Linked DNA regions of Homo sapiens. The protein of the gene in region 2 purifies or fractionates together with the protein of the main gene of each other region. This does not show direct contact. Each region holds a gene or a part of one and is shown on either strand. Other genes may lie near its edges.

Region 1 (3,650 bases), on a different chromosome or scaffold from region 2:
CACTGGCCAGGCCCACCGTCTGGCTGGATGTGCTCTTCACTTTCCTCTCCAGTGAGCCGGAGCGCATGGCCTGGCGCACACAGTTGGTGATCTCCTTCATGTCATCACTCATGTTGCCTGACATCTCAAAGTCATGCAGGGCCGCTGGGAAGCCAGGCCCGGCCGCCGAGGGGCTGCCCGCTGAGCCTCCGTCCAGGCGCTGCCGTGAGAAGTTGCAGAGCCACCGACCATAGGAGCTCTCAGCCAGCCCATCAGCCTCGGCCGACTCTTTGGGCTTGGCTGTGGTGAAGAGGAAGCCGGGCTCGATAATGATCTTGCCCTCTTTGTCATGAACCACAGGGACTCCGAGGCGCCGGGCCACCGGGGGACTATAGTAGACTCGGATGCCCGTCTTGTCAGGAGCCGTGTAGCTGCGCTGCATCTGCCTCCCTGGGGGGTCCTGGCAGGCCAGGGCACCCAGGTGGTTGCAGTCCCTCGACGAGAGCCCAGGCTTCTCCTTGGTGTCTTTCTCTGGATCCCCTGGCTCGGAGCTCACAAAGCCAAAGGCAGGGTTGTTAGGCAGCTTCTTGCCCCGGGCATCTCCGCCAGCAAGGTAAGGGGAACAGTCGAGCAAACTTTCAAACTCAGACATGGAAGAAACAGATTTGGTTCTGCGAAGGACAGAGGAGGAAACGTCGTTATTAGTGGAAATAACACTGAGGGCACACTCTGGTCTACCACCCTGGTCCGTGTGCTGCGTGAGGGCAAAGACCAGGACCGTCTTGTTCACCTCTTGTAGAGATGTTGTTGGTGCCCAGTCCCACATTCTGTCTGCATTTTCTTTTTTTTTTTTTTCTCCCAAACAGGTCTTGATATGTCACCCAGGCTGGAATGCAGTAGTGCAATAATAGCTCACTGCAGCCTCAAACTCCTGGGCTCAAGTGATCCTCCCATTTCAGCCTCCAGAGTAGCTGGGACTACAGGTGTGCACCACCAAACCTGGCTTTTTTTTTTCTTTTTTTTTTCTTGAGACAGAGTCTTGTTCTGTCACCCAGGCTGGAGTGCAGTGGCATGATCTCGGCTCACTACAACTTCCACCCTCCAGGTTCAAGAGATTCTCCTGTCTCAGCATCCGGAGCAGATGAAATTACAGGCGTGCGCCACCACGCCCAGCTAATTTTTGTATTTTTAGTAGAGACGGGGTTTCACCATGTTGGCCAGGCTGGTCTGGAACTCCTGACCTCAGGTGATCCACCCGCCTCAGCCTCCCAAAGTGCTGGGATTACAGATGTGAGCCACTGTGCCCAGCCTAACACCTGGCTAATTTTTAAAAAATTTTTTGTAGAGATGGGGATCTCCCTATGTTGCCCAGGCTGGTCTCAAACTTCTGGCCTCAAGAGATCTTCCTGCCTCTGCCTCTCAAAATGCTGGGATTAGAGGCATGAGCCACTGCACCTGGCCTCTCTTTGCACTTTCACCTATACACCTAAAACTGCATACTCTGAACTGCATACTCCACCATTCTCTATCTGATGGTTTTTTTTTCTGCCTGTGGGATCATACTTGGCTGTCCTACACATAGAAGAAGCTAGACCCAGCACTTTGGGATGCTGAGGCAGGCAGATCACCTGAGGTCAGGAGTTTGAGACTAGCCTGACCAAGATGGTAAAACCCTATCTCTTAGTAAAAATACAAAAATTAGCCAAGCGTGGTGGCGTTAGCCTGTAACCCCAGCTACTCAGGAGGCTGAGGCAGGAGAATTGCTTGAACCTGGGAGGTGGAGGTTGCAGTAAACTAAGATTGTGCCATTGCACTCCACCCTGGGAGACAGAGCAAAACTCTGCCTCAAAAAAAAAACAAAAACAAAAAAAACAAAACACACGCCCAAACCGAAGCTAGAGATAGCACAGAGTTAATGAGTTCACACCCCTAAACACAGCCCTCAACAAACAATAGGTGGGATATGGTGAACAAGTGCCCCAGCCTCCTTGTGGTGGGATGACTCTAAGCTGCATGTTCTCCTCTGGCTCCCTGAGTTCCTCCGACAGCCTGAACTCCAGTTGCCCGTGGAATAACCTGGTTGAAGCTCCTTTTATCGGCTGCTTTCCCTTCCCTGTCTCACTTCCAAGTGTTTCCTGAAATTCTGTCCCAAATAAACCATTTGCACTTAAATCTTTGTCTCAGGGTTTGCTTATGGGGGAACCCAAACTAAGACGCCATGAAGCTCCTGGCACACCTATTGCCTGAATCACTGAACACACCAGGCATATGGAAATGCACGTGTCAGACCACTCTGATTAACTTCAAGAGGCAGCTCCTATCATCCCCACTAGACAGAGATGGGAAGTACTGCTCAAGGTCAAGGTCATAGAGCTAGAACTGGCAGGGCTGGCATTCAAACCTGGCCCTCTGGCTCCACAGCCTGTCCCGCCTGCCTTGCTTCTGGGCTGGTCTGATAGCGGCTGGGGGTTCTGTTTCCCTGACTCCTTTCATGGGTTTCCTAACAGTGGAGACGTGGTCCTTATGGTCTTGGGGTGGGGGTCTCCTTGGCCATAGCACAGGGCTGGGCCCAAAGGATGCTGCTCAATAATCCCAGGAATAGAGGTCAATCTTGACTCTCCTAACTCCAGAGGCAGGAGAAAAGAATCCCAAGAGGAGCAAAATGTTTTGTTTCCACCTGTGTTCCATTCCCGGACTCAAACAACATGCAGCAGCCTGGAATTCCCACTGCCCCAAGCCTTCCAGCTCCTGAGTGGCTCGGGTTCCAGAGAAACCATATCCCGATGCTCTCCCAACTTGGATGCGGTGGGGTGGCGGCAGGAAGAGGGCAAAGGGGCGGGGCAGGGCTGCGGTGAAAGCAGGTAGAGTGGGTGCAGGGCGCAGCAGGAGGTGGAGAGGGGCGAGGCTGTGGGGCCGGTCAGAGAGGCAGAGCAGGGGACCAGCATGCAAGCACCTCTTTAAACCATTTCCTCCAAGCTCAACTTCGGAAACAGCCTCCTTGTCGTGGATCTTCTCACTGCGTGTCTGTCAAGGAAGAGAGACAGGAAGGGTCAGTTCTGGCCACCAGAGCACTAAGGGCATGGAACAAGAGACCAGCCCCGACCTCAGTGCTTGAATCTCCTCATCCGGAGAGCAGGAATGATGTCATCAATGATCTAGCATGGTCAGTTTCTGGCTGCCCTGCATCCAACTCCCCCACCATATGTGATCCAGGCTGGGCCAATCAGAGCTCCAAGAGTGACCCACCCAAGGAAAGGGACCACTTAAAATTTAATCCAAATGTGGTGACTGCAACAAAGCATCCAGTGGTCCACTGCTCAGCTGGTGGTGGGCTTGTCTTCTTCCTCCTCAACCCTACCCCCTCACTTAGCCCAGTCCCTGGGTGGTTGGGTTTTTTTTTTATTTTTTTGAGGCAGGAACCATGAGATACAGACTCCAGGGCTGAGGAGCCCAAGGTGCAAGGGTGTGACCTATGAGACAGGGTTAGCAACTTCCTCTCATGTCCCCCACAAGCAGGGACCTTTATGGTGCAGCCAGGAGCCAAGATAGCATGGCAGCAGCCGCCCCACTCACCTCCTTCCAGCTGTTGTCCTGCTTCTCCAGCTCCGAGTGCTTCAGGACCCAGGGGTCGGCAGCCTTCTGCAGCTGGGCAAGGGCAGAGAGGGTGGGTC
Region 2 (3,650 bases):
CATAATATTTTTTTTTTTTTTTTTTGAGACAGAGTCTCGCTCTGTCACCCAGGCTGGAGTGCAGCGGCGCGATCTCGGCTCACTGCAAGCTCCACCTCCTGGGTTCATGCCATTCTCCTGCCTCAGCCTCCCAAGTAGCTGGGACTACAGGCGCATACTGCCACGCCTGGCTAATTTTTTGTATTTTTAGTAGAGATGGGGTTTCACCTTGTTAGCCAGGATGGTCTCAATCTCCTGACCTCGTGATCTGCCCGCCTCGGCCTCCCAAAGTGCTGGAATTACAGGTGTGAGCCACCATGCCTGGCCTTTTTTTTTTTTTTTTAGACCAAGTCTCACTCTATCACTCTGGCTAGAGTGCAGTAGAGCGATCTCGGCTCACTACAACCTCTGCCTCCCAGGTTCAAGTGATTCTCCTGCCTCAGCCTCCAGAGTAGCTGGGATTACAGGCGTGTGCCAATGCCTGGCTAATTTTTGTATTTTTTTAGTAGAGATGGGGTTTTCACCATATTGGCCAGGCTGGTCTCGAACTCCTGACCTCATGATCCACCCACCTCAGCCTCCCAAAGTGCTGGGATTACAGGCCTGAGCCACTGCACCTGGCCACCTGGCCCATAATTTTTATATGCACTGGGAATCCAAAAGATTCATGTGCATTGCTTTTTTGCAGTATTTGCTTTATTGCGGTGGTCTGGAACCAAACTTGCGATATCTCTGAGGTATGTGTGTAATTAGAAAAGGAGGTTGGGGCTGGATGCGGTGGCTCACATCTGTAATCCGTACAGCCGAGGCAGGTGGATCACCTGAGTCAGGGGTTTGAGACCAGCTTAGTCAACATGGTGAAACCCCGTCTCTACTAAAAATACAGAAATTAGCCAGGCATGATGGTGCACGCCTGTAATCCCAGCTGCTCGGGAGGCTGAGGCAGGAAAATGGCTTGAACCCGGGAGGCAGAGGTTGCAGTGAGCTGAGATCGTGCCACTGCACTCCAGCCTGGGTGACAGAGGAAGACTCCATCCGAAGGAAAAAAAAAAAGACAAGGAGGTTGGGGGTAGTCAGACTGCAGTGAGGGTTGAAGAAGGGGTGTGATGCCTGGGGCCCTGAATGTTGCAGATTTGGAGGACATGGGGGCTTTTGTTCCTGGAGGCGTCTTTTTGTAGAGAAAGATGAAGGATGCTTGGCTCTCTGGGGCCTGAGTTTGAAAAGGGCCACGGAGGGGCCGGTAGCCAGGCCTCAAGTTAAGTGCACTAGCCCACGGGTTCCACGGAAGGTGGGATTGGATAGCTCATGCTCCATCTCCCCCGCCCAGCATGGCACCTTGGGCAGTGGCCGCTCCTCGGACAAAGGCCCGTCCTGGTCCAGCCGCTCACTGGGTGCCCGTTGCCGGAACTCCATCGCCTCCTGTCCCGAGGAGCAGCCCCACGTGGGCAACTACCGCCTGCTGAGGACCATTGGGAAGGGCAACTTTGCCAAAGTCAAGCTGGCTCGGCACATCCTCACTGGTCGGGAGGTGAGTATGGGCACAGGGTGGGGCTCGGGGCAGGTCCCTGTGGGACCAGGTCTTCGGTGTATGTTGATAGAGGTCAGGATTGGCCCTGGGTTTGCTTTGTGGCCTCAGGTAAGTTCCCGACTCTCTATGGGACAGGTCACAATATCTCTGATGTTCCCAGAACCACCCCCATGGGAAAAGAGAACTAATTTCATGTATCCCTGAAATTGCCGGGAAATCTCAGATCACAGGCAGTCCAATGTGTGCGTTGCTAAGGATGCATGTGGCTTTTGTAGATAAACCTGAGCTGTGGCCGGATGCATTGGCTCACACGTGTAATCCCAGCACTTTGAAAGGCCAAGGCAGGAGGATTCCTTGAGCTCAGGAGTTTGAGACCAGCCTGGGCAACATAGCAACACTTTGTCTCCACTAAAAAATAAGTAAAATTTTTTAAAAATTAGCTGGGTGCGGTGGTGTGTGCCTGTGGTCCCAGCTACTTGGGAGGCTGAGGCGGGAGGATCGCTTGAGCTCAGGAGTTTGAGGCTGCGGTGAGGTGTGACCTCACCACTGCACTCCAGCCTGGGTAACAGAGTGAGACCCTATCTCAAAAAATAAAAATAAAATAAAATAAAAGAGGGCTGGGCATGGTGGCTTACGCCTGTAATCCCAGTACTTTGGGAAGCTGAGGCAGGTGGATTGCTTGAGGTCAGGAGTTCGAGACCAGCCTGACCAACATGATGAAACCCTGTCTCTATTAAAAATACAAAAATTAGCTGGGCGTGGTGGCACATGCCTATAATCTCAGCTGCTCAGTAGGCTGAGCCAGGAGAATCGCTTGAACCCAGGAGGCGGAGGTTTCAGTGAGCCGAGATCATGCCACTGCACTCCAGCCTGGGTGACAGAGTGAGACTCTGTCTCAAAAAAATAAAAAAATTAAAAGGCCGTGCGCGGTGGCTCACTCCTATAGTCCCAGCACTTTGGGAGGCCAAGGCAAGTGGATCACCTGAGGTCAGGAGTTCAAGACCAGCCTGGCCAACATGGTAAAACCCCGTCTCTACTAAAAATATAAAGATTAGCTTGGTGTGATAGCAGGCACCTGTAATTTCAGCTACTTGGGAGGCTGAGGCAGGAGAATTGCTTGAGCCCAGGAGGCAGAGGTTGCAATGAGCCAAGATGGTGCCACTGTATTCCGCCTGGGCAACAAGACCGAGACTTTGTCTCAAAAAAAAAAAAAAAAAATTGGCCGAGTGCAGTGGCTCATACCAACAAACACAGCGCTTTGGGAGGCCGAGGCAGGTGGATCACCTGAGGTCAGGAGTTCGAGACCAGCCTGGCCAACATGGCAAAACCCCATCTTTACTGAAAAAAAAATACAAAAATTAGCTGGGTGTGGTGGTGCGTGCCTGTAAGCCCAGCTACCTGGAAGGCTGAGGCAGGAGAATCACTGGAACCCAGGAGGCGAAGGCCGCAGTGAGCCGAGATTGTGCCACTGCACTCCAGCCTGGGTGACAGAGCAAGACCATCTCAAAAAATAAATAAATAAATAAATAAATAGTAAATAAATTAAAAATAAAAAATAAATAAACCTGAGCTGCCTCTCTGTTTTAAGGGTGGACTTTGGTTCCTTGAAATCTTCCTGTGATCTGGAGAACACAGCAGGTTTATTTATGTTGTATTCTCAGTTACACACAGCCTCACTCTCCCCACCACCTCTTCCAGAGCAGGCATCTGTGCTGAGTATGGTGACATTATTGCAAAAAGGGCCCACACAGGCTTTGCAGCCTAGATATGAGGTCTCTAACTCACTTAGAGGAAAAGGAATGGTGGGTGATTTCATGATTTCCCCACCCCTCCTTCAACTTCAGAGAAATGATTGGAATGAATTATCCTGCCTTGGATGGACTCTCCCCTGCCCTCACGCTGTCTACACCATACACGCAAAAGACACCGGGCCCCGATGGTCTTACAGGCAAATCCTACCAGATGTTCACATTTTATGCCAGTTCTTCCAGAGACTAAAGAAAGAACTGCCACTGCCTGACTGATTTTTACGCGCTAGTTTGTCCTTAAGAGCAAAACCAGACAAGAAACAAAATTACAGGCCAATCTGGTGAACATAGGTATAAAAATCTTATACAAAATATTAACAAACAGAACCTGGCAA
Region 3 (3,650 bases), on a different chromosome or scaffold from region 2:
GGTGGTCAGGAACGGGGCTGGGGCTGCCTGTGCCTGCTGGCTCAGGCAACAGAACCTCTTTGGCCTGGAATCCCTCCAGCTGGGGTGGGATGGGGCGATGAGGTGTCTGTAGACTCACTGTCCAGATTCTTACAGGACATACTGATACTCCTTTCACCCCACAAAGCACAGGCTTAAACCTAGGGATCTAGACTAGTGCAGGCCCTGTGGAAGGGGTCCCAGATTGAGTGTATGGACCACTCCTCCATAGGACCTATTAATGATGATGAGGCCAGAATTGGGGTCTGCTCTGAGCAAGTCCCTGTACCGTGTGCGCTGGTACACAGAACCAGCAAAGCTCTGGGCAGCTTTGCTGACAGCTGGCTTCACCTTGGGGGCAAGGCACCCGTCCATGTGGTCAGCACCACGGGGTAAAACAGCAGGCTAAAAGTGACATCGTTAGGCATTCCATCTTGTTATCTTTTTGTTGTTAGAAATAATCTACAAACTGTCCAGTGGTGCTTTGAATAACCACAAGCTGGCTATATCCAGTGCCGGAAAGGAAGGGCAATGGTAGGGATGGGTTGATTTGTCCCAAGGTCATGAGCTTTCCAGCAAGTATGAATTTCCCTCTTCTCAATTCAAGGAGTTGCTGAATTAATGATGAGTTTCAGAACACTGTTCGCTGGGGACTGTAAGTGCCGGACACATGCCAACACCCTGGTCCTTTCCACATTTCTGTGGACATAGCTCATCTAACTCCCACTTTTGCCCACAGAGGAACTGTCTCAGAGTTAAATCAGTGGCACCTACCTGGGTGGGAACTCAGTGCCTCTGGGGCATGGATGGATATGGTGGAACAGAGATGATAAAGACAGAGAAAGCAGAGGCATTAACCTCAGCAGTGGCCAAAGCAAACAAAACCATGATGAGAAAACCCGGGATACATCTGGAGCATGTGTAGGCGCTTGCAGGTGGAACGAAGAGAGTATGGTGGAAACATACCGGGCAGTCAGAATCAGAGGACATGGGGACAGTGGGGAGGGCGCATCCAGTTTCCACTTTGGATATTTTGAGACTATCTATCTATCTATCTATCTTTTTTTTTTTTTGAGACGGAGTCTTACTCTGTCGCCCAGGATGTAGTGCAGTGGCGCAATCTCGGTTCACTGCAACCTCCGCCTCCCGGGTTCGGTCAATTTTCCTGCCTCAGCCAATATTTACATTTTATAACAAGCATGTGTTACTTTTGAAAGCATAAAAGTTGATGGCTTGAGTGGTGAAGTACAGTTGCTCCAAAGCCTAACCGGAAACACTGATGTGGCTGCTGCTGTGAACGGGGAAGGTGGGAGGGTGTAATGACTAAACTCTGTTTACTGTTTGTTTTGTGCCATGTGCTGCTTTCATTATGTGTATTAACATACATAAGCTGCAAAAAAAAAAGATAATCAAAATACGTCCTGTATACAGATGAGGAAACTGAGGCACAAAGCAGTTGAGTAACCTACCCAAGGAGGCAGAAGCGATTCAAACCCAGGCAGTTTGGGCTGGGCACAGTGGCTCACGCCTGTAATCCCAGCACTTCGGGAGGCTGAGGCGGGTGGATCACCTGAGGTCAGGAATTCGAGACCAGCCTGGCCAACATGGCGAAACTCTGTTTCTATTAAAAGACAAAAATTAGCCGGGTATGGTGGGGTTTGCCTGTAATCCCAGCTACTTGGGAGGCTGATGCAGAATTGCTTGAACCCAGGGGGCAGAGGTTGCAGTGAGCCAAGATTGTGCCACTGTACTCCAGCCTGGGAGACAGAGCGAGACTCCATTTCAAAAATCAACCAACCAACCAACCAACCAACCAACCCAGGCAGTTTGGCTCTAGAGCCTGAGCTCTCAAGTACTGTCCTGTACCACCCAAGAAAGACCAGAGAAGACAGCGTGAAGGACAGAAGTGTGCCACAGGCATGGCTAGGTGCTGCAGAGATCTGGCAGGGAGCAAATGGGAAGAGGACAGTCATTCACAGACTCGAAGTTCAGAGGAAAATCAAGGATGAGGCGATCTGGAAATGCTGAATTGCCTGAGAAGAAATTTCATGTAGTAGAAACGGTATGTATTCATTTGGAGAATGATGAAAAAGTAAAACTGGAGGAAATTAAACTGGGGAGGAAAAAACTGGTGTGTAACTAACAACCACATCAACCACTATATATCTTCTTCAAGGACTACTGCCAGAAAATATTTTAATAAATTCTCTTAGTGGAGCTTTTAAATACAGTGTATAAAGCATCTCACAGCATACAAAAGAGAGTTTTCCCAGACTTTAAATGAGAAAAGAGAGGTTTCCATGGACCTTTCAAAAACCACTCAACACAAGCATTCCTTTGTATACATAACACAACAACAACTGGAAAGTCCTTACCATAAAACTCATACACATGTGACACAGCACGTCTAACTTCTTTGTTAATAATCAAAAATACCATGTTTATGAAATGAATAATAAAGCAGCCACTTCTTCAGAAGTGGCATAATTTTAAGTCATTTTGAAGAGAGTGGTAAAATAGACTGCATTGACAAAACAACATTTTAAGACCAAGACATTTTTATTCTAGTAATCTATTATTTTCATCAATCTTACTTACCTTTGAAGATTTCCTTTGTGATTTTCTTCTTCCTATAAAGAAGAAATAACTTCATCTGAATCGGTTAATTTTGGTTGTCCAGAAGCCCTGAATGTACTTAAGTGATTTGTTTGCTCTGCACCCCCAGGAAACCACCATTTAAAATGTGCACTGAGGCCAAGCTCTGGTTAGGAGTGCTACTGCCCTGAGGCCTTTAAAGTACAATCATCAAAGCGAGTCCACAGCATGATGAGGGGCTGGAGCTTCTGTAGTCCAGGGAGAAGCCCACATGAGTGAGAACAACTGGCTATAAACTTTGTCATGGAGGAGGTGGCTCTTCTGTGCTTCCTCAAAGGACCTCACTGACTACATGAATTTCAAAGCGGGATTTGTAACAACCTAAGTGTGAGAGTGAGACTGAGAGAGAGAGAGAGAGTGTGCATGTGTTATGTTAGAGAGAAAGATGGAAGGTGATAGAGTAACGTTAGTGGTCCCGATCTTGCTGTAGAAGTTGGCGTGACATCCTTAGACTCGGGCACTTGGTTGGTTTTAAACATTCCCATTTAGAATCAGAGGCAAAGTACAGTGCCTTCCCCTTTAAGAAGAATGATAGCTGTGTTTGTAGAGAACGGCATAAACACGAGGTTGTCTGCTGAGAAAACACTCTTGTGCTGATGTGGTTTTGAAGCAGCAAGACTCTGACTAACAGTAAGGGAAGCATATTTTTCAAGACAGTAAATAGCAAGGGGTACCCTTCCCCTTAATGAGCATGCCCCTTGTCTCTGCCATGCAGGGTCCAGTGGGCTGGAACCCACGCACAGGCTCCTGACCCCACCCCACGTTACCTCTACTATGTAATCGGACTGTATAAGATTGCCAATAGATCAGACAGGGTGGGACTGTGGCAATGTCCTATCAACCTGGTACACATTGCTGAGGATAAGGCATTTGACCTTACTGATGTGGGTGAAATATAATTTCTGCATACTTCAATAACACTATTTGATATGAACTCTTCTAAGTCTTGAGTGTTTAGGAGACCAAATGATAGGTGC

Evidence for each region.
Region 1: the proteins of MARK4 (region 2) and MTCL2 purify together in Homo sapiens (affinity purification with mass spectrometry; one large-scale study listed by BioGRID and IntAct). This does not show direct contact.
Region 3: the proteins of MARK4 (region 2) and MTCL1 purify together in Homo sapiens (affinity purification with mass spectrometry; one large-scale study listed by BioGRID and IntAct). This does not show direct contact.

The regions. Positions count from the first base shown.
Region 1 is NC_000020.11:36,793,950-36,797,599, forward strand, and holds part of MTCL2 (microtubule cross-linking factor 2), read right to left. Parts: intron 3,625-3,650; coding exon 3,553-3,624; intron 3,004-3,552; coding exon 2,933-3,003; intron 651-2,932; coding exon 1-650. UniProt on the Homo sapiens protein: Microtubule-associated factor that enables integration of the centrosomal and Golgi-associated microtubules on the Golgi membrane, supporting directional migration. Preferentially acts on the perinuclear microtubules accumulated around the Golgi.
Region 2 is NC_000019.10:45,257,683-45,261,332, forward strand, and holds part of MARK4 (MAP/microtubule affinity-regulating kinase 4), read left to right. Parts: intron 1-1,306; coding exon 1,307-1,507; intron 1,508-3,650. UniProt on the Homo sapiens protein: Serine/threonine-protein kinase. Phosphorylates the microtubule-associated protein MAPT/TAU. Also phosphorylates the microtubule-associated proteins MAP2 and MAP4.
Region 3 is NC_000018.10:8,820,465-8,824,114, reverse strand, and holds part of MTCL1 (microtubule cross-linking factor 1), read right to left. Parts: intron 2,649-3,650; coding exon 2,617-2,648; intron 1-2,616. UniProt on the Homo sapiens protein: Microtubule-associated factor involved in the late phase of epithelial polarization and microtubule dynamics regulation.